Linked DNA regions of Homo sapiens: regions 2, 3 and 4 are each linked to region 1. The links come from fine-mapping of genetic effects on gene expression. A gene starts in region 1. Each other region holds a variant in brackets. All regions are shown on one strand. Distances are between the middles of the regions.

Region 1 (8,064 bases):
AAAAAAAAAAAGGTGAGGCCGGGCGCAGTGGCTCATGCCTGTAATCCCAGCACTTTGGGAGGCCGAGGTGGGCAGGTCACCTGAGGTCGGGAGTTTGAGACCAGCCTGACCAACATAGAGAAACCCCATCTCTACTAAAAATACAAAATTAGCTGGGCGTGGTGGCAAATGCCTGTAATCCCAGCTACTAGGGAGGCTGACGCAGGAGAATCACTTGAACCTGGGAGGTGGAGGTTGCAGTGAGCCGAGATCACACCATTGCACTCCAGCCTGGGCAACAAGAGCAAAACTCCGTCTCAAAAAAAAAAAAAAAAAAAAAAAAGGTGAATCTGTCAAACTTTCTTTTGTCAATTAACATCAAAGACGTAGTGCTATCCCAGCACTTTGGGAGGCTGAATTAGCTGGGCGTGGTGGTGGATGCCTGTAATCCCTGCTACTCTGGAGGCTGAGGCAGGAGAATTGCTTGAACTAGGAAGGTAGAGGTTGCAGTGAGTCAAAATCACGCCACTGCACTCCAGCCTGGGCCAAAGAGCGAGACTGTCTCAAAGAAAAAAAAAAAAAAAGACAGTGCTGAGAAATCTTGTTCTCTGCCTGGCCAACATGGTGAAACCTCATCTCTACTAAAATACAAAAATTTGCTGGGTGTGGTGGCGGGCACCTGTAATCCCAGCTACTCAGGAGGCTGAGGCAGGATAATTGCTTGAACCCAGAAGACGGAGGTTGCAGTAAGCCGAGATCGCACCATTGCACTCCAGCCTGGGCGACAAGAGTGAAACTCCACCTAAAAAAAAAAAAAAAAAAAAAAAAAAAAGGAATCTCATTCTCTAAAATCAGAGACTGTCAGAAACTTTGCTGTTTGAAATCACATCAGTGAGAGCAGAACATCCCACGCTTCTCTAGTGGGTCAGAAGAGCCAGGTTTGATACAGAGACATAGCCTGTATCTACCCAGATGCAGAGCTTCAGATAAAGGGTTTTTGGACACAATAGTCTATATTTGTCTTACCTTTGTGGTGTCCAAGGAAACAAGACTCTGAGTCTGATTCTCAGCCCACGCCAGATGTTAACCCCTTTACACATTGCCAGCTTTGCTTTGCACCTATCAACACGGCTTCATTTCAATTTCACCTAAACTCCAACCTCCTCCAAATCCTATGATAATCCCATTTCTTCTTTTGTTTGGTGAGACCCTCCACAGTTTCTCTGGTGTGTTGTCTCTCTTGCTACATCAAGTTAATAAGCCTAATTTTGTTAAACTACAGCTACATCCCTAGTGGTCTTTTTCAGATTGGATTTGTCATAAAATTCAGGCTTTCTCTTTTCTTTTTTTGCTTTTGAGATGGAGTCTCACTCTGTTGCCCAGGCTGGAGTGCAGTGGTACAATCTTGGCTCACTGCAATCTCTGCCTCCCCGGTTCAAGCAATTCTTCTGCTTCAGCCTCCCAAGTGGCTGGGGTCACAGGCATGCACCACCACACCCAGCTAATTTTCTATTCTTAGTAGAGATGGGTTTTCACCATGTTGCTTAGGCTGGTCTTGAACTCCTGACCTCAGGTGATCCACCCGCCTCAGCCTTCCAAAGTACTGGGATTACAGGCGTAAGCCACCATGCCCAGACCTTTTTTTTTTTTTTTTTTGAGACTGAGTTTTGTTCTATCCGCCCAGGCTGGAGTGCAGTGGCTCAATCACAGTTCACTGCAGCCTCAATCTACTGGGCTAAAGTGATCCTCCCACTTCAGCCTCCCAAGTAGCTGGGACCACAGATGTGCACCACCACACCAGGCTGATTTTTAAAAAATTTCTGTAGAGATGGGTCTCACTATGTTGCCTTGGTTGGTCTCAAACTCCTGGGCTCAAGGGATCCTCCTGCTTCAGCCTCCAAAAGTGTTGGGATTACAGGTGTGAGCCACCACGCCCAGCTGCTCTGTTCCTTTACTCACTCATTGATCCATTCATTCAGTGTTTGTCCAGCCTATGCTCAGTTTGTTGTTGTTGTTCGTTTTTTTTGAGATGGAGTTTCACTCTTGTCGCCCAGGCTGGAGTGCAATGGCGTGATCTCAGCTCACTGCAACCTCCGCCTCCCAGGTTCAAGCAATTCTCCTGCCTCAGCCTCCTGAGTAGCTGGGATTACAGGCGCCTGCCACCATGCCTAGCTAATTTTTGTATTTGTAGTAGAGACGGGGTTTCACCATGTTAGCCAGGCTGGTCTCGAACTCCTGACCTCAGGTGATCCGCCTGCCTCGGCCTCCCAAAGTGCTGGGATTATAGGCGTGAGCCACTGCGCCTGGCTCCTATGCTCAGTTTTTGTTTTTTTGTTTTTTTTTTTTTTTTTGAGACAGAGTCTTGCTCTGTCGCCCAGGCTGGAGTGCAGTGGCGTGACCTCAGCTCACTGCAAACTCCGCCTCCCGGGTTCACGCCATTCTCCTGTCTCAGCCTCCCGAGTAGCTGGGACTACAGGCACTCGCCACCACGCCCGTCTAATTTTTTTGTATTTTTGGTAGAGATGAAGTTTCACCGTGTTAGCCAGGATGGTCTCGATCTCCTGACCTTGTGATCCGCCCATCTCGGCCTGCCAAAGTGCTGGGATTACAGGTGTGAGCCACCGTGCCCGGCCTATGCTCAGTTTTAAGTACTGGGGTCATGGTGGTGACAGGGCAGACAAAGTCCTTAGCTTTGTGGACACTGCCTCTAGTGGATGAGATAGAAAATAACTAGGTAATCACAAAAACAAAGTAACAGGTTATAAAGGAATTGGAAGGGTGCCCGGGGTCGGGGGATAGAGGAGGTGGGCAGAAAAGGAGACGCTACAGTTGAACTGGAACCTGGGTGAACAGATCTCAGGAAAGAGCACTGCAAGCAGAGATCAGCAAAAGAAGTGAAGATGAGGCCGGGTGCGATGGCTCACGCCTGTAATCCCAGCACTTTGGGAAGCCGAGGTGGGTGGATCGCTTGAGGTCAGGAGTTCGAGACCAGCCTGGGGAACATGGCAAAACCCTGTCTCTACTAAAAATACAAAAATTAGCTGGACAGGGTGGTGCAAGTCTGTAATCTGAACTACTTGGGAGGCTAAGGCAAGAGAATCACTTCAACCCAGGAGGTGGAAGTTGCAGTGAGCTGAGATCATGCCACTGCATTCCAGCCTGGGTGACAGAATGAGACTCTGCCTCAAAAAAAGGCTGGGCGTGGTGGCTCACACCTGTAATCCCAGCACTTTGGGAGGCTGAGGTGGGCGGATCACCTGAGGTCAGGAGTTCGAGACCAGCCTGGCCAATATGGCGAAACCCCGTCTCTACTAAAAGTACAAAAAATTAGCCGGGTGTGGTGGCTCGTGCCTGTAATCCCAGTTACTCGGGAGGCTGAGGCAGGAGAATCGCTTGAATCCGGGAGGCAGAGGTTGCAGTGAGTCGAGATCACACCATTGCACTCCAGCTTAGACAACAAGAGCGAAACTCCGTCTCAAAAAAAAAAAAAAAAAAAAAAAAGAAGTGAAGATGAGCTTGTCAGATTGTCAGATTTGCAAAATAGCCAGAAGGTCAGTGTTCTTGGAGCAAACTGAGTGAGCAGGAGGGTGGGGAAAGATGAAGCACAAAGGCTGAATTTTACCTGGGATGATAAAATAATCTTACACAAGCCGAAACGTATATACTTTCACATAAATTTATGTGCCTATGAAATTGGAGTTGCTCTGGGACTCAAGCGGCATCCTTGCCCCAACCCCTGCTGTTTTCTGAAGCATTCCTAAGGAACCTTAGAGTGTGGGAGAGAGAAATAGCAGGAAGTCCTTAACCTAGTCCAACCCTTTTATTTTACAGTTAGGGAAACCTAAGCTGAGAGAGGAGATGGAAACCTGGTTGTAGGAGTGAGTGGGGAAGGGTTCACGGTCATTCTGGTAGGTAGGGGTAGGGCCAGAGCAAGGAGTCCTGGTTTGTGAACCACCAGCTGGCCGTCTAGGAGTTTACAGACCAGCAGTGGCAATGTTGACAAAGGGCATATCTTCCTTTCCCCAAGAACATTGGCTCTGGAGCAATAACCCAGCAATGGGGGCTTTGGGGTGTCCCTCTTAATCCGGTAGCTCAGCCCATTCGGATATGCCAGCTGGAAAGAGAGAGGGAGAAGTCAACTGAGTACCTCTCTCTAACAGCTCAATCCCTCCCCTTCAGGGTTAAGATCGGGGCTGCAGTGGTTAGCATCTCTGCTTCCTCTAGCCGGCTGTGTCATTGAACCTGTGTGATCAGACGCAAACCAGATCAGTATGACTTCAAAGCTTCATCTTTGAGATGGAGTCTTGCTCCCTCGTCCGGGCTGGAGTGCAATGGCGCAATCTCGGCTCACTGCAACCTCCGCCTCCCGGGTTCAAGCAATTCTCCTGTCTCAGTCTCCCGAGCAGCTGGGACTATAGGCGCCTGCCAGCACGCCCGGCTAATTTTTGTATTTTTAGTAAAGACTGAGTTTCACCTTGTTGGTCAAGCTGGTCTCGAACTCGTGACCTCAGGTGATCCACACGCCTCTGCCTCCTAAAGTGCTGGGATTACAGGCGTGAGCCACCGCGCACGGCTAAAGCTTCAGTTCTTAACCATCAGGCGACAGTGCGTAGTCTGGTAGCAACTGGAAAAGTCCTGCTGAGATTTAGCCTCCCATACACACAGAGTCCCACCCCGGACAGGCTGTATCAACCCCCCACGGCCATATGCCCACTGCTGTTTGCGTACAATGAGGCGGGACCTATAGACTGTATCCACTGACTCATCTGGAGTGATTCCGCGGGGCGCCAATACAAGGACCACTGTCTCCAAACAGCAGCCAGCCACCCCTCTCTCTTGGTTTCCTTCCTTTGAGTGGTGCAAAGGCTTAAGGGTGTAACCTCAGAATGGGGCCCTGAATCAGCTGTGGGCGAGCTCCTAGAGTATCTTAATTCCTGCTTCATCTCTTTCCATTTTGCAGTTGGGCAAACTGCGGCTCAGAAAGATAAAGAACTTCTCCGGAGCGAAAAAGCTGCTAAGAATGTATCCAAAACTCCGCACGGTAAGGACTGAGGACGGTCAAAAGACCACCAAGAGTTAAAACCATGAAGCTGCGTAGTACCGCGGAGGCTAGAGAGACCCGGCCCACCCCTTCCAACCTATGCCCCTCCTCTTAACTTCCGGGCGGGGCATGACTTCCGGTTCCCGCGCGGCGCTCCAAAGCTCGGGGAGTGGTGGTCTCCCTTTCCTGGAGTCATTTGTGGGAGTTAGGGTCTTATCCTGATCTTTCCTCGTCCCCCGCTCCCCCGTCCTCCGAGGTGGCAGCTGCGTAGGTGAACGTTCCCCCTGTCCCCTTCCTTCTCCTTCCTAACCCGAGTACGCTTGCTCGCGGCCACAGTGGCTGCCTGCCCCAGGAGCGGGGAGTCCCTGCCTTTGGGGTAGGGAAATGACTGAAATGTGGGACCTGCGGGCTCCTCGGGCTGACTTGGACCTCACTGCAGCTCTGGAGGTGGACCTCGTCCTGGGACCCTAGAAGCCCATTTCCGCACTCGGGCTAGGCCTTCGGAGCCGCGGCAGCATAGTGGGAGGAGTCGGGCTCAGCTCCCCCCCACCACAACCGGGATTATTTTTATCGGTTGAGTCATCGCACTACCTTTCATCCTTGTGGCTTTGGGCAAGTCCCCGCCCTCCGAGCCTCACTTTGCTTATCTGTGAATGGAAATAACAGTGCCTACCCCATGGGCTATCGGGAGGATCAGTTGTGAGGGAATGCAGTGTGGGGTGTCTGGCCGGCAGAATTCCACAAATGGTAGCAGCGGTTGATGTCACTGGAGGTTCCTGGGGCAGTAATTTATCAAGAGTTTATGATCCTGAACTAAGGATCATACGGAGGAGGATCTGTGTATAACGTTCGGCACAATGTTAGATAGGAAGTAAGGGCGCAGTGCACTGGAGTTATTTTTTCTTTTTTTTTTTTTTGAGACGGAGTCTCGCTCTGTCGCCCAGGCCGGAGTTGCAGTGCCGCGTTGTCGCCTCACTGCAACCTTCTCTGCCACATGGGTTCAAGCGATTCTCCTGCCTCAGCCACTCGAGTAACTGGGATTACAGTCGCACATCACCACGCCTGGCTAATGTTTTGCATTTTTAATAGAGACGGTTTCACCATGTTGGCCAGCCTGGTCTTGAACTCCTGATCTCAGGTGATCCACCCGCCTCGGCCTTCCAAAGTGCTAGAAGTATAGGCATGAGCCACTGTGCCTGGCCTGGAGTTATTTTTTCTCACTGGGTTTTTGAGCAAAGAAAAGGAGTTATTAACTGGTGAGGATAAATTTGTGTTTGGTAAGTCGTCTTCTGAAGCTGACAGGATTTATAAGCCGGGTAAATTGTGGTGCTGGTTCATCTTTGAGAGCCAGCCTTAAGAATTGGCCCACTGACTGCTGGGCGTGGTGGCTCACATCTGTAATCCCAGCACTTTGGGAGGCCGAAGCGGGTGGATCACCCGAAGTCAGGAGTTCGAGACCAGCCTGGTCAACATGGTGAAACCCCATCTCTACTAAAAACATAAAAATTAGCCAGGTATGGTGGTGGGCACCTGTAATCCCAGTTACTCGGGAGGCTGAGGCAGAGAATTGCTTGAACCCAGAAGGAGGAAAGGTTGCAGTGAACCGAGATCACACTACTGCACTCCAGCCTGAGCGACAGAGTGAGACTTGTCTCAAAAAAAAAAAAAAGGAAAGAAAAAGGCCCACTGACAGTCTGTTCCTAGAAACCTGGGTTGTAAAGACGTTGGGTGCTGGGAGCTAGAAGAAGTAATAAAAGGGTGTTTTCCTAAGTGGGTTAGGGGTTTTCACTCAGAAAGGTTTTTGGGCAGGAGGGGAAAGCCTGAGAAGTTTTCTTCCTCTTGAGTTGTTATAAAAGTAATACATGTGTGTAGTTAGAAAACAATGCAGAAAGATGTAAAATGAAAAGTGTTTCCCCCTTCTACTGTTTCTGCCCTTCAGAAGTAAATACAATTAATTTCTTTGATAACTTTCTATCTATTATTTGGATATATCAGGTTTTATTTATTTGTATCTGTATTTATGTATTTTTAATTTCCTCAGATCGGGGGTCATACTACACATCGATCGGGACCTTAGTCATGTTGTGATATGGACAGCTTTCTTACCAGTACTCATAAGCCTGCTTCATTTTTTACGTGGCGGCACCACTGAGTGGTTGACGGTACTTCAGTCATTTCCCTGTTGATGGTCACTTAGGTTGTTCCCAAGATTTTGCTTTCCCACAGTGTTTCACCCAACCTTTCTTGGACGAAATATTTTAGTCCAACTCACCCTAAGTGATTCTGCTTTTCCCTATTCACCACCCTAGGTTAGTAACAGCTTACTTTGGGGGATGAGCACACCTTATTAACTGAGCAAAAACCAAGATAATGTGAGAAGAATTGGTGTACTCCCAAGAATATCCAAGGTGCTGGGTCTAGAATCAATTAAAGTCTCCTAAGAAATGGGTCAGGGAACCTTTAGAGAAGGGATGACTAGGTGCTGGGTGCACGGCAGCTAGTCAGCGTTAGTGATTGTTGGCTTCTGTCAATTGTTGCTCAGGAAACAGATTTGAGAGATTCTCTGAGGTGGGAAGGATTTTAAATGTCAGCTCTCCTGCTATGTATTATATGTCTGGAAGGGATTAGTTCTTTGAGGGAAGAGAGTATTAAAGAAAACAATGGGCCGGGCACGGTGGCTCACACCTGTAATCCCAGCACTTTGGGAGGCCGAGGCAAGGGCGGTGGATCATGAGGTCAGGAGATCGAGACCATCCTGGCTAACATGGTGAAACCTCATTTCTACTAAAAATACAAAAAAAAATTAGCTGGGCCTGGTGGCACGTGCCGTAGTCCCAGCTACTCAGGAGGCTGAGGCAGGAGGATTGCTTGAACCTGGGAGGCAGAGGTTGCAGTGAGCCGAGATTGTGCCTGGGCAACAGAGCAAGACTCCGTCTCAAAAAAAAAAAAAAAAAAAAGAAAATGATGATCCTTGAAAAGTGACTGCATCATGGGGCTGTATCCTAATGTGAGAATTAATTTAGTCATTTCTGTTATTTGAACTC
Region 2 (5,527 bases), 21 kb after region 1:
TTTTAGGAGAGACGGTGTTTCACTATGTTGGCCAGGGTGGTCTCGAACCCCTTACCTCAGGTGATCTGCCTGCCTCAGCCTCCCAAAGTGCTGAGATCACAGGTGTGAGCCAGCGCACCCACCCAGCCTCGTTTTAATTATTGTTTGTCCCACTGGGAGTCCTTAATTCCTTGAGTAGGGATTGGTCTTATGGTCTTATTGTATTTCTTTTTTTTTTTTTTTTTTTGAGACGGAGTCTTGCTCTGTCGCCCAGGCTGGAGTGCAGTGGTGCGATCTCGGCTCACTGCAAGCTCCGCCTCCTGGGTTCACGCCATTCTCCTGTCTCAGCCTCCACAGCAGCTGGGACTACAGGCGCACGCTGCCACGCCCTGCTAATTTTTTTGTATTTTTAGTAGAGACGGGGTTTCACTGTGTTAGCCAGGATGGTCTCGATCTCCTGACCTTGTGATCTGCCAGCCTAGGCCTCCCAAAGTGCTAGAATTACAGGAGTGAGCCACTGCGCCCCGCCTATTGTATTTCTTTAACAGATTTCTATTGAGTATGCACTATATTCTAGCACTGAGGGTACAGTGATGAAGCAAGTCCTTGGATTTACTGGGTTTTACTTGGCTTTAATGGGAGGAGACAGTAAGAAAAATACAGAACTGAGACCATTTCAGATAGAGATAAGCACTATGAGGGAAGCAAAGCTGCGTGTGATAGCAGGTGGGGGGTGCTAGTTAAGCTGAGAAGGAAGAGGTCTTCTTGAAGAGGTGGTATTGGAGCAAATTCCTGTGGGGTGGAAGGGAGCAGGTGTGTACAGATAACCAGGGGGAACAGCAAGAGCAAAGCCTCTGAGCTAGGCAGAATAAATTCAGTGTGTCCGAGGAACAGCAACCAGGGCGGCATGGCCGGAGCCCAGTGAGTGAGTACGTGGTCCTGATGAGATTGGAGAGATGGACAAGGGCCTACACGATGGGGACAGAGTTGCTCAGTTATTTCTGGACTTTACTCTTTCCCCTATCCTTTCTCATCCACCCTTGTTCAGTGACCCAGATTATCTTTGCCAGAGATGTGTAAGCAAGATGAAGGAGGCAAGCCTGGGCCAGTTAGAGAAAAGGCAAGAAGGAAACAGGTTTGGTGAGTTCCTCCCCTTTCTCTGCCTCCAGGAAGGGTTCAGGTCCCTAGACAAGCATAATGATGTGGGCATAAGTGGAGGAGGGAGGCTGAACAGCTGGAGGGGCTGCAGAGGGAGCAGATCCCTTAGTGGAGGCAGCCCCAGCAGCTGTAACCCCTTGTGGTGCAGCAGGTAAACCAGGAACACGGCTGGAGTCCTGGCAGTAGGGTTGGGGGGCTCCTGGAGAGGTCTGGGCCATGACCAGCCAGGGGAATCAGGAAAGAGGGGTGGGCTGCGGTCTCAGTGATATGAATTATACAACACATCAACCTTTTGGCAACAACAGAGATACTTTAATATATTTATTTTCAACTTTAATTAATTTTTATTTATTTTTTTGAGACGGTGGTCTCACTCTGTTGCCCAGGCTCAAGTGCAGTGGTGTGATCTTGGCTCACTGCAGCCTTGAACTCCTGGCTCAAATGATCCTCCCACCTCCTGAGTAATTAGCACTACAGACGCACACCACCATTCCCGGCTAATTTTTGTATTTTTTTTGTAGAGACGAGGGTCTTGCTATGTTGCCTAGGCTTTAACTTTTTTTTTTTTGAGACAGAGTCTCACTCTGTTGCCCAGGCTGGAGTGCAGTGGCATGATCTCCTCTCACTGCAACCTCCATCTCCTGGGTTCAAGTGATTCTCCTGCCTCAGCCTCCCAAGTAGCTGGGATTACAGGCACCCACCACCACACCTGCTAGTTTTTGTATTTTTAGTAGAAATGGGATTTCACCATGTTGGCCAGGCTTGAACTCCTGACCTCAAGTGATCTGCCCGCCTCAGCCTCCCAAAGTGCTAGGATTACAGCCTTGAGCCACTGTGTCTGGCCCTAACTTTTATTATTTATTTATTTATTTATTTATTTCGAGACAGAGTCTTGCTCTGTCACCCAGGCTGGAGTGCAATGACACCATCTTGGCTCACTGCGACCTCCGCCTCCCGGGTTCAAGCCATTCTCCTGCCTCAGCCTTTCAAGTAGCTGGGACTACAGGCATGCATCACCATGCCTGGCTAATTTTTGTATTTTTAGTAGAGACGGGCCCTGTTGGCCAGGCTGGTCTTGAACTCCTGACCTCAAGTGATCCACCTGCCTCAGCCGCCCAGAGTGCTAGGATTACAGGCATGAACCACTGCACCTGGCCTTTTATTTTTTAATGAACTATTACACATACGAAAAGCAAATAAAACATGTACCATAGAATAAATAATGATAAGGCAAACATCCATGTAATCATCACCCAGGTCATGAAATAGAACACTGCCAACACTGCCCCCCCAGTACCCCCATCCCTTCCAGATTCTAACCCCCTTTAGAGGCGGCCACTAGCTGAATTTGTATGATAATCACTTCCTTGGTTTTCTTCGCAGTTTTTGCCTATGAATCACACAGAAAGTCTTAAATTAGAATTTTCTCACACAAATCCCAAGCCTGAAGACCTTGGAGGAGAGCCTCTTTAATGTAGATCTTCTTCTTCTTTAGTAAATCTTGGCAGGCCCTTGGGGAGATGGTGGTGGATTTGCAGTCTTGCATTTGGCAGAGAATGCAGTATGAGGCTTCTCTCATTCAGCCAAAGTGTTCTAGGGATCTGAAGAGGACTGTGAGGGGCACAGCAATGCATCCAAAACCAAGCTTGCCCCTGGGAGCTTGCAGTAGGGTGGAAAAAGTGTGGGTAAACATGATAGCCCAGACAGAGGGCCTGGAGAGGGGCTCTGATAAGGGCTCTGGGGGTTTAGAAGAGCCAGCAATCCCTTTTGGCAGTGGGAAGCAGAGCTGGCTTTGTGTAAGAGGTGGTG[G/T]TGTATGCATTCATGCATCATTTATCAAACATTTTTGAGGGATGGCAGTGTGCCAGGAAATTAGGTAAAAAAAAATAAAATGAATAAGATCTCTGCCTGCTTATGGCCTAATAGTTTAGCATAAATAGATACAAATAATTCCAATATGAGATGCTTTAAATACAAAGTGATATAAGACTGATTGGTTGCCTGGGGTTGTCGGGAGATTTCAAAACTAAGGCCTAGGCCAGTCCTTGAAGGAGAGAAGAGTGGAGTTTGGCAGACAGAGAAGGGAGCCACTGAATCCACAGAGGCACAGAGGTGGGAAAGGACACAAGGTGGATGTTGGCAAAATGTACAGTTCATGGTGGGAAGAAGAGTGGACTTGACATGTAGGATGGATAAGCAGGAAAGGTGTTTTAGGGAAGAGGATCAGCATGAGCAGTGGCAGAGAGGTGAGAAGTCATGGTTCCTGCCTGTATGATACTAAGTATTATACAGTCTAGCTGTAGCATAGGTGTGTAGTGGAAGGTGTGATGATTAATTTTATATGTCAACTTGACTGGGCCATGGGGTGCCCAGATATTTGGTCAAACATTATTTTCGGTGTGACTGCAAACTTGTTTCTGGATGAGATTAAGATCTGAATCAGGAGACTGAGCAAAACAAATTGCCCTCTCATCCAATCAGTTGAAGGCCAACATAAAACAAAAAGGCTGACCCTCCCTTGACTGAGGGAGAATTTTTCTTGCCTTCAGACTTCAAAGAGAAACACTGGCTCTTCCTCTGTCTTGAGCCTGCTGGCCTTTGGACTGGAACTGAAACATCAGCTCTCCTGGTTCTCAGGCCTTCAGGCTTGGACTGGAGCTACACCATTGGCTCTCCTGGGTCTCCAGCTCAGTGACTCACCCTGTGTATCTTGGGACTTGTCCTCCATAGTCGTGTGAGTGAGCCAATTATAATAAATCTCTTATAATAAATCTTTCTCTCTATATATATATATGTATATTTTATATATAGAGATTATTATATATAATTTATATATTATGTATGATTATATAATATATAATTTATATATTATATATAGACCATTCTATATGTATATATAACCACTCTCTATATAGAGAATGGTTTTATTTTTATTATTATTTCGAGATGGAGTCTCCCTCTGTCGCCCAGGCTGGAGTGCAGTTGTTCGATCTCGGCTCACTGCAACCTCCACCTCCTGGGCTCAAATGATTCTCCTGCCTCAGCCTCCCAAGTAGCTGAGATTACAAGCACGCATCACTACACACAGCTAATTTTGTATTTTTAGTAGATATGAGGTTTCACCATGTTGGCCAGGCTGGTCTCGAACTCCTGACCTCAAGTGTTCCACCCGCCTTGGCCTCCCAGAGTGCTGGGATTACAGGTGTGAGGCACTGCACATGGCCAGAATGGTTTTATATGTAATATATAAATAATATATATTACCATTCTATTGGTTCTGTTTCTCTGGAGAACTATGACTAATACAAAAAGAAAGGGAAATCACTTTGGAAAGGCAAAGATCATAGAGGACATAGAATGTCTGGGTAAAGTCTTAAATTTTTTTTTTTTTTTTTGAGATGGAGTCTCTCTCTGTCACCCAGGCACTGCAACCTCCACCTCCTAGATTGAAGCGATTCTCCTGCCTCAGCCTCCTGAGTAGCTGGGATTACATGCATGCACCAACATACCCAGCCAATTTTTGTATTTTTAGTAGAGATGGGGTTTCACCATGTTGGTCAAGCTGGTTTCAAACTCCTGACCTCATGATCTGCCCACCTCGGCCTCCCAAAGTGCTGGGATTACAGGTCTGAGTCACTGTACCCAACCAAAGGTCTTAAATTTTATTCTGAAGACAAAGGAGAAAACACTGAAGGTTTCTGAGTAAGGGAGTGACCTAATCAGAGCGATGATATAGGAAGATAAATGCTGTGCTTTGTCAAATGAGTTAAAGTAGAGATTCTTTTTTTTTTTTTTTTTTTTTGAGACGGAGTCTTGCTCTGTGGCCAGGCTGGAGTGCAGTGGTGCGATCTCTGCTCACTGAAACCTCCGCCTTCCGGGTTCAAGCGATTCCCCTGCCTCAGCCTCCTGAGTAGCTAGGACTACAGGTGAGCGCCACTATACCCAGCTAATTTTTTGTATTTTAGTAGAGACAGGGTTTCACCATGTTGGCCACAATGGTCTTGATCTCCTGACCTCGTGATCCTCCCGCCTTGGCCTCCCAAAGTGCTGGGATTAGAGGCGTGAGCCACCGCACCCAGCTGAGATTCTTTTTATTTATTTTTTTGAGACAGGGTCTTGCTTTGTCACCCAGGCTGGAGTGCAGTGTAGTGCACTGGCATGATCATGGCTCACTGCAGCCTCAACATCGCAGGCTCAAGCGACCCTCACATCTCAGCCTCCCCAAGTAGCTGGGACTACAGGTGCTTGCCACCACACGGTTTTTATATTTCTTGTAGAGATGAGGTCTCAGTATGTTGCCCAGCCTGGTCTCAAACTCCTGGGTTCAAGTGATCCTCCCGCTTCAGCCTCCCAAAGTGTTGGGATTATAGGCATGAGCCACCATGCCTGGACT
Region 3 (7,100 bases), 44 kb after region 1:
AGAGTCTCACTCTGTTGCCCAGCCTGGAGTGCAGTGGCGCAATCTCACTGCAACCTCTGCCTCCGGGGTTCAAGCAATTCTCTGGCTTCAGCCTCCTGAGTAGCTGGGATTAAAGGCACTTGCCACCACGCTTGGCTAATTTTCATATTTTTAGTAGAGACAGGGTTTCACCATGTTGGTCAGGCTGGTCTCGAACTTGACCTCAGGTGATCCACCCACCTCGGCATTCTGGGATTACAGGCGTGCATTCTGGGATTACAGGCGTGAGCCACCGCTAAATTGCCTGCATATTTGGATTATTTCACGTTGATAGTAAGAGTTCATAGTTGAGTGTTAAGTGCTCTTTGCAGAGTGACTGACAACCTGTGATGGTGATACTATTGTCTCTGTTTTACAAAGGAAACGAGGCTTAAAAGAGTTTTAAGTAGCTTGCCCAAAATCACACAAGAATGGGAATCTGAGCTTTAGGGCTGCTTGATTGAAAGCATATGCCCTTTACTGCAACTCTGTCGTCTTCCTTGGGCATGTTAGAGACTTGAGAAATACTTGCTGTGTGATTAGGTTATTTCGTCTCTTAAAATAGGGCGAGGTGGTTTACAGCCCTTTCTGTAATATTTTGAATCTCTTGGCTACAAATGTGACACTTATTAAATTAAATTGCTCTTTGAGATTGGAATGAAGGGATTTCTGAAAGGATTGATAAAATTAGCAAATAACCCTCCCTAGGAGAAGCAAGGATTTTTCTGAGTTCCCTCTTATTCATGATATTTAGATGCTTTTACTTAACAACTGTTCTGACCTTTTTAGGGCTGTTTCTGCAGATTTTAATTTTGCGTAAGAATAAGGTGCCATATTAGGTATTTACTCTCTGCTAGGTGGTGTGTGTACCAGTTGCTTTATATACATTACCTCATTTCTCTGTAGTGGTCTTGTGAATTAGATGTCAATTTGTAGACGAGAAAGTTAAGGCATAGAAGTGAAGTAACTTGCCAGGATCGTACACATTGAGGTGGAGCTAAGATTGGAACCCATATTTGCTTGTCTTTAAAAATCTCGTCTTTTTTTGGGGGGCGGGGGAGGGGTCAGAGTCTCTGTCAACCAGGCTGGAGTGCAGTGGCATGATCTCAGCTCACTGCAACCTCCTCCCGGGTTCAAGCGATTCTCAAGCCTCAGCCTCCCGAGTAGCTGGGATTACAGGTGTGCGCCACCATGCCTGGCTAATTTTTTGTAGTTTTAGCAGAGACGGGATTTCACCATGTTGGCTAGGCTTGTCTTGAGCTGCTGACCTCAAATAATTGACCCACCTTGGCCTCCCAAAGTGTTGGGATTACAGGCCTCTGTGCCTGGGCGTTTTTTTCATATTACTACTTTAGTCAACAAAGTTGTAAAAGACATTTAAGAATTTTATTTTTTCTTGCCCTTAATATACTGTTCAGTATTGTATTGGCTGCATTGGGACGGGGAATAAAGAAGTATAAGCCTAGTTGTTCTCTCAGAGAGCTTAAAATCTATTAGAGGGGCTGGGTGAGGTGAGGTGGTGCATGCTTGTAGTCTCAGCTACTTGGGAGGCTGAGGCAGGAGAATCGCTTGAGCGTGGGAGGCAGACGTTGCAGTAAGCTGAAATTGCGCCACTGTGCTGCAGCTTAGGTGACAGAGTGATACCCTGTCTCCAAAAAAAAAAATCTATTAGAATAAAGTAAGCATATGTGACTAAAAATAACATGGTTAATTACTCCTGTGATTCATTTATTCGGTGAGTGTGTCCTGTGTGACTGGTATTGAGCTATTTTGTGGGCATACAGCAGTTATTACCTTTATGGAGATTTCCTTATTTTTAAAAGTCTGTTTCTACTGCCATATGACAGATAAACAAGATAATTATAGATTATGACCTTACAATAAAGGAAATAAGGTAATATGAAAGGAGTGTAAGGAGGGAGGGTACTATTGCCCTGGATAATGTGGTCAGGGGAGGACTTTTGGAGGAGATGATGATTCGAGCTGAGATCTGGAGAGTGAGAAGCCAAAAGCTTTAAGAGCAGGGGCAGGAGTGTTGTTGGTAAAGACTTCAAGGCATGGCCGGGTGCAGTGGCTCACACCTGTAATTCCAGAACTTTGGGAGGCCGAGGTGGGCGGATCACCTGAGGTTGGGAGTTTGAGACCAGCTTGACCAACATGGAGAAACCCCGTCTCTACTAAAAATACAAAATTAGCCGGGTGTGGTGGCACATGCCTGTAATTCCAGCTACTCAGGAAGTTGAGGCTGGAAAATCGCTTGAACCTGGGAGGCGGAGGTTGTGGTGAGCAGAGATTGGGCCAAAAAAGACCTGAAGGCAGGACAGAGCCTGGCACGTCTGGGGAGGTAAGAGACCTGTGTAGCTAGAGCATGGAGAGTACAGGGGAACGGAGCATGAGAAGGTTTGAGAAGGCAAGAAGAAGGGCCTTGCCATGGGTTCTGTTTAGTCCGTTTAGGCTTCTTTAACAATACCATAGACTGGGTAGCTTGTAAACGACAGAAACTTATCACAGTTCTGCATCCTGGGAAGGACAATATTGGGGTGCTGGCGTATTTGATGTTTGGTGAGGGCCTGCTTTGTGGTTCATAGATGCTGGTTTTTTCTTTTCTTCTTTTTCTTTTTTTGACGGTCTCACTCTGTTTCCCAGGCTGGAGTGCAGTGGTGATCTTAGCTCACTCCCACCTCCGCCTCCCAAGTTCGCTTTGGTGCTCTCAGCTCACTGCAACCTCTACCTCCCAAGCAAGCGATCCTCCTGAGTAGCTGGG[G/A]TTACAGGCATGCGCCACCGGCTAATTTTTGTATTTTTAGTGGAGACAGGGTTTCACCAAGTTGGCCAGGCTGGTCTCGAACGCCTGACCTCAGATGATCCGCCTGCCTCGGCCTCTCAATGTGCTGGGTTTACAGGCCTGAGCCACTGCGCCCATACCAGTTTGTTCCTTTTTGCTGTGTCTTCTTGCATGGTGCAAGGGGTAGGGGAGCTCTCTGGGGTGTCTTATAAGGCCACTAATCCCATTTGGGGATGAGGGGACTCTGCCCTCTGGACCTAATCACCTCCCAGCAGTCTCACCTTCTAACAACGTCACACTGGTGATCAGGTGTCAGCTTATGAATTTTGGGACACAAACATAGCAGGTGGTCAGGCGGTTGGGGCAGTTTCAATACCTAGACTAGTTAGGAAAGGTCTCAGAGAAGGAGAGGTTTTGTAGTGGAAGGGTAGCTTGAAAATAGGGTGAGTTGTAAGGCCAGACACCCAAGATTTGGCTGAGATGGGAGGATCCCTTGAGCCCAGGAAGGTTGACGCTGCAGTGAGCTGTGATTGAGCCACTCCACTCTGGCCTAGGTGACAGGGTGAGACCCTGTCTCAAAAACAAAAAAAATCTTTAGGAAACCTGTATATTTGAAGATCAAGGGCTAAAAATCCACTCAGTACCATTTAGCAGAGGATGTATGACATCCATTACACATCTGTTTCAAAAACAGCATGTTTCCAAAATTATACATCTCTTTACAAATAAACGTTATAGTATTAATAACTATAGAGGCACCATCAGAACTAGTTACAAAACATGCTGCTAACTTTCACAAGGCATCTCTGAGCCATCTCTTAAGTTCTGTATTTTGATCCCGGGGCTTTAAGAACATTTTCTTTGCTTTAATTAGTTGTAGGTCTCCATTTTCATTGTCTTCATAATTGGCTTGATCTCCCTTTTTGGCAGACTTTTTTCCTGTTGTCCCCACCAAGGTCTCATATTCTAGCCATTTCTTCTAGCCATTTCTTCTTCATCTGACACGTAAAATTCCACTGTTTCATCTTCAATTTCTGCTTTGTTCTTAGTATTCACCTGAAGCACTAATTTCTCAACCTCAGGAGTAAATCTGATGAATGAAATTCCTTCCATAGAAATGATCTTCACATAACAAGAGATGCTGCTCTTCTGTTATGAAATTCTTTACTTATTAAGCTCTGGCAAATCTGAGTACCAGTGCTCTTAACTAATTTTATTTTCTTCCTCTTCTAGTCATTTCTTAGTTTCTGAGTCCAGTCTTCTTTGCATGAACTTCATGTACAGCAGGTTCTTGGAGAACTTGGTCTTGTGCTCAGGTGCCATGCTGGCTTCAGCTTGTGCTGTGTTCTGGCCACCTGCTGTTTCTTAGTTAAGAGACTAGAATGAGAAAGTTACATGTAAGGATGTCAGTTGGTAGTATTATTGAAGGAAGAATATGTAGGGGGTGATGCTTGTTTATTGTCTGTGTACCCCACTGGAATTGTTGCTCCAAGAGGGCGTGAACTTTGTTATGTGAATTGTGGGGTGTGCCTACGTATAGGACAAAGCTTGGCACGTGGTAGGTACTTAGTAAAGGCTTGTTGAATGAATGAGTAGATGAATGAGTAGATCTACAAGTCTTGAGTATTTTGAGGAAAACATCTTATTGTAATCTCCATTTTATTCCTTTTTTTTTTTTTTTTTTTTTTTTGAGACAGAATCTCACTCTGTCCCCAGGCTGGAGTGCAGTGGCACAATCACGGCTCATTGCAACCTCTGCCTCCTGGGTTCAAGCAATTCTCCTGCCTCACCCTCCCAAATAGCTGGGACTACAGGTGAGCGCCATCACACCTGGCAAATTTTTGTATTTTTGGTAGAGACTGGGTTTCACCATGTTGGCCAGATTGGTCTCGAACTCCTGACCTCAAGTGATCTGCCCGCCTCAGCTTCCCAAAGTGCTGGGATTATAGGCGTGAGCCACCACGCTTGGCCGAAACAGGGTCTTGTTCTCTTACCCAGGCTGGAGTGCAGTGGTGTGACTACAGCTCACTGTAGCCTTGACCTTCCTGGCTCAGGTGGTTTCTCCCCTCAGCCTCCCCAGTAGTTGGGACTACAGGCACATGCCACCACTTTTTTTTTTTTTTTTTTTTTTTTTTAATTTTTTGTAGAGATGGGATTTTGTCATGTTGCCCAAGCTGGTCTTGATTTGCTGGGCTCAAGTGATCCTCCTGCCTTGGCCTCCCAAAGTGTTGGGATTACAGGCGTGAGCCGCCACACCCAGCCTTGGTAGAGGTTTTTTTGTTTGTTTGTTTTTGTTGTTGTTGTTTTGAGATAGCATCTCCCTGTGTTGCCCAGGCTGGAGTGCAGTGGCATAATCTTGGCTTACTTGCAACCTCCGTCTCCTGGGCTCGGATGATCTTCAGCCTCCCAAGTAGCTGGGACCACAGGCGCATGCCACCATGCCCAGCTAATTTTTGTATTTTTGGTAGAGACGCAGTTTTGCCACGTTGCCTAGGTTGTTCTCAAACTCCTGGCCTCAAGCAATCCACCTTCCTTGGCTTCTCAAAGTGCTGGGATTGTAGGCTTGAGCCACTGTGCCCAGCCTCTGGGTAGGATTTTCTAAGCAATGTTGTATTCTTAATTGAACATGTAAAAAGTAAAGTAGAGATTCCTCTTCAAAGACTTCCCCCACATCTAATCAGAAATAAATAGTAACTTCTCTTAAAAGCAAAATTTATTCAAAGACCTTTGCTAACATTCTTAAATATCTGCTAGCTGTAATAAATAAATCAGTGTACTTTATGTTCTTAGCTCCCACAATTTAGCCTAAATATTTGCCCTGGCATGCTTATACTGGTCCAAGCAAGCATTAGGTCATAGCCTGTTTAAAGGTATTTTTACCTTTCTCAGCATTCCACAAGTTACTTCCTCCTTCCTTTGTTGTCCTCTGCCTTTGCCTCTTTTTTTTTTTTTTTTTTTTTTTTTTTTTTTTTTTTTTGAGACAGAGTCTCGCTCTGTTGCTCAGGCTGGAGTGCAGTGGCATGATCTTGGCTCACTACAAGCTCCGCCTCCTAGGTTCATGCCATTCTCCTGCCTCAGCCTCCCAGGTAGCTGGGACTACAGGCGTCCACCACCACGCCCAGCTGATTTTTTTGTATTTTTAACAGAGGCAGGGTTTCACTGTGTTAGCCAGGCTGGTCTTGATCTCTTGACCTCGTGATCCGCCTGCCTCGGCCTTCCAAAATGCTGGGATTACAGGCGTGAGCCACCACGCCTGGCCTTCTTTGCCTCTTTTTAAAAGTTGTAAGTTGCTAGCCTATCAGGACAAATACAAAACGTGAGGTCCCGTTCCAGCCAATAAAAACCGGACACAGCAGTAGGATAGACACGTCAGGTTATAAATGACCCTGTCTCCTTTGCTCGGTGTACTTTTGTGGCAAAACTGCTGGCAAGTGTATCCTTTCTGCAGAAGGTATAAATGGCCTTGCTGAGAAAATTAAATTTATGTTCAAGTGCTATTTCTTTACGGCACTGAGGAACAAGCATTTCTTTTTTTTTCTTTCTTTTTTTTTTTTTTTGAGATGGAGTCTCGCTCTGTTGCCCAGGCTGGAGTGCAGTGGCGCGGTCTCGGCTCACTGCAAGCTCTGCCTCACGGGTTCACGCCATTCTCCTGCCTCAGCCTCCCGAGTAGCTGGGACTACAGGCGCCTGCCACCACGCCCGGCTAATTTTTTTGTATTTTTAGTAGCGTCGGGGTTTCACCATGTTAGCCAGGATGGTCTCGATCTCCTGACCTCGTGATCCATCCGCCTCGGCCTCCCAAAGTGCTGGGATTACAGGTGTGAGCCACCGCACCCGGTCGGAACAAGCATTTCTAACAAACATATAAGGCCAGCTGTATGCTTTTTGTTACATGTCTTCTGTGATATAGAAGCAAACAAGAAGTTCTGCAAACAAGACAGTTTGTTAGCACACTTGCATACGTGTGTGAATGCATGGAATACATTGCTGTGGTTTGAGTACTTTTGGTTGCCTAAAAATCACATGCATGGGTAGGTGTTTAAAAAATTGTACGTTAGATATGCTACTATAACTTACAGCAGAAGGTTATATAAGCTGCATTTTCCAAAGTGGCTGGATTTGACAGGAGAGACAAGTAGTTTTGATTTTATTCTGTTTAATCCTACAACCAGACTAGTCCTTCTGTTGAACTGATAAGGAAGATTGTGAAATTGGGTCATTCTCTTGATTCCTGTAGTGCCTCTTCTTTCTTGTATCCTAAGTATGAAAATGGGTTACTTCAGGGGCAAACGTATTTCACA
Region 4 (8,064 bases), 91 kb after region 1:
CCACTCCAGCTCTATGATGAATCAGAGGGGCAGCAGCTCGCCCTGTCCTGGCTGCGATAACCATCAGCCATTCTTGAAGCTTCCCAGGTGGCTCTAGCTGCTGTCCAAGAAGGGGATGGGGGAGGAGGCCCAGGTTGCAGGAGGTGCTGGAAGGAAGGAGGAGGAGAGATGGGAGAAGAGAGATCCAGCAAGCAAATTCTAGTGTCACCTAAACCTGATGAGACCAGGAGCTTGGAATGCCATTCTCCACATGCCCAGTATATACTTCCCTCACTCTTAAGGAAAGAGCCAGTGTTCTGGCCAGTGACTACCGTCAGCATCCCTGATAGCCCTTCCCAGTCCATATAGCACTTCTCCATACAGTGTTTCACTTGGGCCTCCAGCAACCGTAATGGTGGAAGTGTGAGGTCAGGAAGCCTGTGTAGAGTGGAGGCTTTAGAATTAGAACTGGGTCCAGTCCTGGCCCTGCGGTATCTTCATCTCTACTTTACAGATGAGGTTGAGAGGTTTATGAACTTGCTTCAGATTCCTCAGGCTGCCAGCAATGAGGAATGAGACCCCAGGTCTTCTGATGCCTAGAAAGAGGCTTCATGAGGAAAGAAGGGAGAAGCAAGCATCTATAGAGCTCTGGTTAGGTGCTGGTTAAAGTCCTGCTTAGGAATCTGCTTGTTTCTGTGTACTTACGATCTGTTTGTTTTCTTTCAATTTCCTAGTAAAAGATGTTTTTGAAAAATACCTCCCTGTTTGGCTGAACTGAAGGGAAAAGGACTCGTCAACTCATCTATACCTTGGTTCAGGCGAGATGCTCTAGAGCCAGGTGTGGGAGCAGCCCAAAAGGGGTTTGGACTGGATTGTCAGCCCCTTCCTGCTGCAGGCAGGCACCTGACAGCCAATCTGACAGGCCTGGAGCTGGGCCTGAAGTTCTTCTGCCACGCCAGCCAGGGAAAGGGGTGGGGGGAGGGCTGCTGTTTCCAGCTATGGCTTTGTCAGCTCTAGCAATGTGACTCCAGGCTTCCTCATCCCCTGCCTTAAAGAGAAAACTGTAGAGCGATGTGTAATTCTCCAGCAGAGTGACAGAGTTCAGCTTAGCCCAGCCAGAGACAGATTTCATGCTCCTGTATGGGGAGGAGGGGTAGGCTCAAGGCTCTGAAGCCCTCTGGCCAGGAAGCACCAAGGGTAGGTCTACGCCAGTAGTGGAGTGAGGGAAGTGGAGGGTCTGTGGGACTGAGGAGGGGCTCTGATAACATATTCCATCCTGACCAGCAGGCTGAAGCCTTAGGTTCCGGCCTTGGGCAAGTCTCTTCCCTTCTGTAGGTCTCAGTCTCACCCGTAAAATAGCGATGAAGCCTACACCTGCCTCTTGGTTGGTTTATCTGACAGGAAATGTTTGTGTTCACTTGCTTGCCTATGAACGTGACATGGGATAATGCTAGTAAATGGTGCTTTAGTGCAGGCCTGACCCACGGTCAGTGAGTTGCTCAGTAAATGGTGTGGTGTTGAGTATTGATAATTAGTAGTGTCCTGCATCACTCTCTCAGGGAGGCCATGTCTGTTGCTTTCTCAAGTAGAAGCTTCAAGGAGGCAACTGTTCCTGATGTCGCTACAAAGTCCATTGTTGACCCTTATATCTGGCAGGAGGCCTGTGAGGACTTAAGAAAAAAAGGGAGTCCTTGGGTAGGTGAGGAACCAAATTGAGGATGGAGGCTTTGGCTCAAAAGGGGGATCAGAGCTGATGAAGGTGGAGTTGGTCTGGAATCAAGAAGGGGGGCTAGGCTGGGTGCGGTGGCTCACGCCTGTAATCCCAGCACTTTGGAAGGCTGAGGCGGGTGGATTACTTGAGGTCAGGAGTTCGAGACCGGCCTGACCAACATGGTGAAACCCTGTCTCTACTAAAATACAAAAATTAGCTGGGTGTGGTGGCAGGCGCCGGGAATCCCAGCCGCTTGGGAGGCTGAGGCAGGAGAATTGCCTGAACCCACGAGGCAGAGATTGCGGTGAGCCATTATTGTGCCACTGTACTCTAGCCTGGGTGACAGAGGGAGACTTTGCCTCAAAAATTAAAAGAAGCGGGGCTACATGAGAAGCGCCATGCCTGGGGTCTGGGTTCTCCCAGTGGCTGCCGAATTGAGCTAATTAAGCCCAGAGGAGCCACTGCCTGGTCCAGGACCAGTCTGACAAAACCTGTCCTGGGTCCTTTCCACTGGCTTTTGCACCATCTTTCACAGTGATCAGTTTCTGGGCCTCAGTTCCTTCTCCTGGGTCCCCCTTTCCCTTCTTTGTTTTGAGGGTTCTACCTTAGCCTTCCCAAGTCTTGGGGTGCTGGTGGGGCTAGAGACTGGCACTGCTCCAAGGTCATACACACAATCTGTTCTCTGGCTTGACTGAGCTCCTTGAGGGCAGGGGCCAGGTCTGAGTTGCCTCTGGCCTTTCCCTGTCCAGCATTGAGCCTGTAATCCTTGGGCCCTGACCAGAGGGCCCAGCCCTTGCTGGTCTCAGTTGTTGGACTGGCCAAGGTGGCACAAGCTTGCATGGGGCCTTCTTCCTCACAGGTGGCACGAGGAGGTGGGGTGTGTGCTGAATTGGAATACATGGCTCCTTGTGTCCAACTTCCTCTTCCCGACTGGCCCAAGGCTTGGGAACAGTGGCTGCCTTTTTGGGGCAGCCAGGGCACCTGGCCAGAGTGTGCTCTGTCGGGCACTGTCAGCTCTTCAGCAGGCCCCGGTCCTCCTCTTAACCTAGAGAAGGCCCTGGGTTATTGGTGTTGTTCTTGGCGGACCACCGAGCCCCTCAGCAAACAGGGAGGTGAGTGTGCACCCGGTCTAGGCCTGTTTGTGTTGGCCTCGCCAGGCGGGGGATTAGCTCAGCTGGGCTGCTAATTGCCTCCGAAGTGCCGGCCGGGATGCTGACAAGGGCTGGGCCTCCAGTCCCCTCCTCCCGCAGCAGGCACTGTGCCAGGCTTGGGGGCCTGGCCCAGAAGGGCCCCTTCTCTCCCCTGTCAGCGCCTGCTTGGCCTAGACCCTTGAGATGTGGGCAGGGGGTCACCAGGACTGGCGGCTCAGGAAGGAATCGGGGGAGATGCTTATGAAGTCATCGACTGGGCCAGGCCAGGCTGTGTTCCACACACCCCTCCCCCACATGCCTTAAGACCGCCTCTCCAGCTCCCCTTCTGAATCAGACACTTTCTCCTGAAGCTCAGCACTTTTTTCCTCTTACTAGGAAGCTGCTGGGCTCCTTTGCCCAGACACCCTCACCTCAGTCGCTGCTCTGAGCTCCCACAGCATCTTCTCTCTTCTTGTCTCTTTCTCCCTGTCTTCCTCATGTCTGTCCTCCCTCTCTGCCTTTTCGTCACTCTGTGTCTAGCCTTTCTTAGTCTCCCGCAGTTGTCTAGTTCCTAGACTTCCCTTCTGTCCTGTTTTCCTGTGTTCTCTGGCCTTTGCTTGGCCTTTACTGCTCCCCAGACTTCCCATGGACTGGTTGTTCTCAGGAAGAGGCTGAGAAGGAGGTCTACTTTGTCACTGCATTTTCACGGCTCTCCTAGAGAACTTCAGGCCCAAGCTCTGAGGGCAGCTACGAGGATAGAGCCTGGACACAGGCTCTCTGCAAGCGGACCCAGCCTGGGAGCCTGAAAGTCTTACTTCCGTCCCCACAGGCAGAGCGCTTGGGGCCCACTACACCTTTTCCTGCAGCTCTGGCACTCCTGTCTGCACTTCCGACTTGGCCCTGCTCTCTGGCCTTGCCCTGCTTTTCCCAGACATTGGGATCTCAATCAGCCCCTCCAGCTGGTGCCCAGGGACAGCTTTGCTATAACCTTGTTGGCTGCTGCCTGGGTCTCCTGGCCTCTGGGATTCTCTGCTCTCCTATTGGGGTTTTCTACTTTGGGTAAAGATCTGCCTGCTTCTGAGCTCTGGGTAGGGTCAAAGTCTTGCAGCACCTGCCTCAGCCCTCAACTTGTTCCATGTGAATTAGAGGGATTGAGCCACTCCTCGTTTCATCCCCCCTCCTGCTCTCTTCAACTTACAATGACCTCAACTGCCATGACCTTAACTGCCTCCTAGGTTCCTGAAAAGGGAATAGTAATATTTCCAGTGAGAGTTGTCTGGGAGGGTAGACACAAGGAGAAGAGGGAGAATTAGAGAAGATGCTGAGGGAGCTCAGGGCAGCAACTGAGGTGAGGGCATTTGGGCAAAGGAGCCAGCAGTTTTCTAGAAGAGTTGTTGAACTTTACCAATGTTCTCTTATTTAACACCCCCAATAAATAGATTCTATTATTATCTAGCCCCATTGAAGTATGTGTTTAAGGGGGTGGGACAGGCCCATTTTACAGATGAAGAAATGAGTCTGGGAGAGGACAATGAATTGTCCAAGGTTTTATCTAGTGAAGAAGTGGCAGTGCTGGGATCCAAACCAGGTCTATCTGATTTCAAAGCCTGGGACCTTTGCATAGTGCTAGAAAATGGTTCAGCATGGTCACCTTGACTTCTTGGTTTGGTTTTGTTTTGAGACAGGGTCTTGCCCTGTTGCCTAGGCTGGAGTGCAGTGATGCAGTCTCAGTTCACTGCAACTTCTGTCCCCAAGGCTCAAGTGATCCCCACTCCTCACCCTCCTGAGTAGCTGAAACTACAGGTGTGTGCCACTGTGCTAGGTTAATTTTTGAATTTTTTGTAGAGGTGGAGTTTCACTATGTTGCTAACCTTGACTTATTTGCTGCTCTGGTACCCTCTATCCCCTCTCCCTGCCTTTCTGAGGATGAGGTGTCCTTTTTTGTCCACCCATACTCTATACCGTGTCCGGGACCTCCCTTTGTCTATTATGCCCCTGCCCCCGATTCTTCACAAATTCATAAGCACCCCTGCTGTCCTGAAAGCACTTTTCTTTAGCCCTTTACCCTGCTAAGCCTTTGGAAAGCTGAGCACAGAGCAGCCTACCCACTCCCCGGCTGCTGTGAGTTTGCTGCAGCGGGGGTGGGGGATAGGCCATGGCCTACCTTGGTAAGAATAAGGACTTCACTTAGTTAGAATGGAGGTTCCTGAGAAGCCACCCTGGATCTCCCATCAGCAACGAGTTCCCTTGGCTGTGGCTTTAGACTTGAGTTACTTGAAGTTTTCCACCCAGACTCCTTATTCTAATTGGATTCTAATCCTGGAGTTTACCTGTGAGCCATAGTCCTTGGATTCCCATGTCTCAGGACAGAAACTAAGTCCTTTTCCCTCATCCCCTACCTCCCATGTCAGTACCCAGTTTACCAGGCCCTCTACTCAACCAGGCCCTCATCAATACTCTTGAAAGATCTGACTAGGCCAAGGTTTAAGTAGCTGGTCATGACCCAGTGAAATGCACACGAAGAAGCCTTTGTGTGTTAACAGTGAAGTTTCAGAAAGCATGCAGGTGGGTCCTTGTGGCCCTCAAACCACCTATTAAGAAGGCAAAGGGGCCCCTATATATAGAATTTGCTACTATTTGTCTGCTATTCCCATGACCTTCTCCAAGTCTCTTCTCCCTATTCTATAAAAAAAGTCACTGTCACAATTGCAAGATAAAGAAATAATTGTTTTATCGTGCATCAGACTATGTCATGGGACGTCACAATGGCAAAGAGCCTAGTATAAAAATTGGAG[G/T]ATGGGGTGGGGCAGCAGAGTGGGTTAGCAGCATCCAGAGCTGGGCTTTATCCAGCCCTAGGCCTCAGGGCATCACCTTTGCCTTGGGACGAGAGGAGAGTGGTTTGGGCAGGATGTGGACCCTCTGGCCAATTTCCAGGCCACGGTGAGGCCAAGAGGGGGTGGGCTATGTAAGGGCTGTGCCAGTTCCCCCTGGGACAGTTTGGAGCTGGGCATGTCCAAAGAAGCTCCTTTTCCTGTGGCTGTGGATTTCTTTGATCTCTGCAGCACTGGCGGTGGTTGGCCTGGGCAGTGGTTCCTAGAATTTGGTCTCATTAACCTAGGTCGCAACCTTCAGAACCCCAGGAAGATCAGCTTTAGGAACTCCCTGGCAGGTGAAAAGGGCAGTTCCCATCATACCAGCATCCAGCCTGGACCTACTGTTCCCTGGATGGGGAGAGTGGCTCAGCTCTTTCCTCTGGGAGGGGAGGGGTCCTCATTGTTCCCTCTTTCTGGGTCTAGCCTCTGCTAGTGAGGCATAGTATTTTTTTTGGGCTTAGTAGACAGCTGAACAGCCAGCCAGGGGAGCAGCGGACCCAGCTGGGCAGCTGTGGCGACAGTTGGATCAGCTTTCATCCACATCAGAGCTGGCCTGCCCCAAGATTATCAACCACATTTGAATGTGGCTCCAGCACCTCACTTGGTTTTGGCTTCCTCCTTGTATGGACATTGAGCAGAGATCTTGGCTGGGGGCCAAGGGTGTTGACCCTCTTTTCATGAGGGAGCCAACACTAGGAGGCACAAACCACAATGCCTGGAGAAGAGTTTCTGCAGGCTGGAGCCCATATTCCGAATCTCGGACGTTGAATTCAGCCACTGAACACAGGAGCCAGGAGCTTGGAGTCTGGGAACCCCAAGTGGGGGATCACAGAGCATAAAATCTCCGACCTGAAACTTAGAGCCCCAGTGTGGGGGCAGTCTGGAAAGTGGGCTTACAGCAACTTCCTCTGGTGATTGGGAGCCCATCTGAGAAGCAGATGGGTCAAGGGCAAGGTCTTGATCCATGCATGTCCTTCTCACAAGCCTGGGCGGGGCTCGTGATGGTTTGGCGGTTGTACAGGGTCAGGCCCAGGTTGCTGGTGCTGTCTCTTGGGAAATCTTGCAGTACCTATGGTACCTGGGACCCCAGGGACTCGGATGTGCTGGGGAGGGGTGCACCACACTGCTGAGACCTCACTGTCAGCCTTCCAGCTGTTCACATCTTTCCTCAGAGCCTGTTCTGCCCTTAGGAACCATGTGGGCTCCAGCTCAGCCTGTGGTCTCTGGCTCCTGCTGCTTCCCTGCCCCTTTTCGTCCAGCCAGAACCCCTGCCCCAGGCTCAGACCCAAGAAGACCTGCAGTTTCTCTACCTTTGGGTACAAGAACCAAGGAGGAGGCTTGGCTGGAGGACTCTTCTGGCCCTGCCTGTCCATCCAGCTTGCTGTGAGAGGTCTGGGGAGCACTGCCGTCTCTGATGTCAGATGGGCATTAGCATTCTTGGTTTGTCTGCTTCCCAGGACTGTTGTGGCCATCAAGTGAGATGGCCTGTACAGGGCCTAGAACACGTAGTATTTGCTCAATAAATTGTGTTGAGTAAGATAATGGGAGAGGACTTTATTGCACAGCCCTTTCCTCCCTCCCTCTCGCAGGTGTGTGTGTGTGTGTTTTCCTTTTTCAGTTTCATGGAGGAACAGTGCTGTGAAAGGTGACTCAGGGGCATGACTGCAAAGGCACAGCCCTTTCCTCCCTCTCTCTCGCAGGTGTGTGTGTGTGTCCGTGTGTGTGTGTGTGTGTGTGTGTGTGTGTGTGTGTGTGTGTTTCAGTTTCATGGAGGAACAGCGCTGTGAAAGGTGACTCGGGCATGACTGCAAAGGCACAGCCGGGATCCCTGGTCCAGGATGGCAGCCTATATGCCTGCCTAGGTGGGTCTGGGGAGTGGTTAAGTTTCCTCTTCCCAGGGGCAGGCTGGGGCAGGCTGGGTTCTAGGGTGGGACTTCAGTCGTCTCTTGCTCTCATCTCCCTCTTCTTGCCTGGAAGGACCCACAGATATCGAACCTCTAGCTGTCCATGTAAGGGCTGAAATGAACCTGGTGCCCTTGACCTGGTATCTGCTTGTTCCCTTTCTCAGGGCATTTGAGAGACATGGCTTCTAGGCTCAAGCTGCCAGGAGTCCATGTGTATGTGTGCTGGAGAGTTAAGAGTTCTTTTTTCCAGAGGGTGTGACTTCCATCAAGTCGGTACCTATTTTCCCTGCCATAAGGCCCCCTCTTCCCCGATGACACGGTCAGTAGCCATGTGGTGGTAATACTCCTTGTTACTCCACCTTAGGTCTGCAAGTAGAAAAACGGACACAGATAACAACTGAGTGGTCAGTGGCAGCCACATGCGGGCAGCCAGCGGCACGAGCAAGGTCCCTTTGGTCAGTGGCAGC

Alleles and levels. Positions count from the first base shown, and alleles are read on the strand shown. Sizes are in standard deviations (SD) of each study's normalised expression. Not every link is listed here.
In carriers of allele T in region 4, the expression in neutrophils of the gene that starts at base 4,839 in region 1 tends to be higher than with G alone (large effect, 0.89 SD a copy in Naranbhai 2015).

Evidence for each region. PIP is the estimated chance that this variant, and not a neighbour inherited with it, causes the effect. A credible set is the group of variants that fine-mapping cannot tell apart.
Region 2: its variant is the best candidate, but not a certain one, in a credible set for the expression of LINC00339 in prefrontal cortex (ROSMAP, PIP 0.76).
Region 3: its variant is the best candidate, but not a certain one, in a credible set for the expression of LINC00339 in monocytes after interferon gamma (Fairfax 2014, PIP 0.59).
Region 4: its variant is the best candidate, but not a certain one, in a credible set for the expression of LINC00339 in neutrophils (Naranbhai 2015, PIP 0.51).

What each region holds. Positions count from the first base shown.
Region 1 is chr1:22,020,353-22,028,416 of GRCh38, forward strand. It overlaps LINC00339 (long intergenic non-protein coding RNA 339), which reads left to right and starts at 4,839. Exons shown (of 2, transcript NR_023918.2): 1 at 4,839-5,020. It overlaps LINC01635 (long intergenic non-protein coding RNA 1635), which reads right to left and starts at 5,696. Exons shown (of 3, transcript NR_110692.1): 1 at 5,612-5,696; 2 at 4,454-4,614; 3 at 3,642-4,093. RefSeq lists a silencer at 2,568-2,687 and enhancers at 5,124-5,725, 5,337-5,446, 5,524-5,818.
Region 2 is chr1:22,042,272-22,047,798 of GRCh38, forward strand. No RefSeq gene overlaps it. Among named protein-coding and RNA genes, the nearest start is that of CDC42, 7.7 kb to the right of the region's middle. RefSeq lists an enhancer at 2,862-3,031. The variant G/T (reference allele first, on the strand shown) is at 2,947.
Region 3 is chr1:22,064,705-22,071,804 of GRCh38, forward strand. The region is part of intron 1 of CDC42 (cell division cycle 42); the gene reads left to right. It also overlaps the pseudogene MPHOSPH6P1. Among named protein-coding and RNA genes, the nearest start is that of CDC42, 16 kb to the left of the region's middle. The variant G/A (reference allele first, on the strand shown) is at 2,783.
Region 4 is chr1:22,111,779-22,119,842 of GRCh38, forward strand. WNT4 (Wnt family member 4) reads right to left here. Exons shown (of 5, transcript NM_030761.5): 5 at 5,535-8,064. Among named protein-coding and RNA genes, the nearest start is that of WNT4, 27 kb to the right of the region's middle. RefSeq lists enhancers at 4,627-4,796, 6,290-6,339 and a silencer at 7,355-7,524. The variant G/T (reference allele first, on the strand shown) is at 5,616.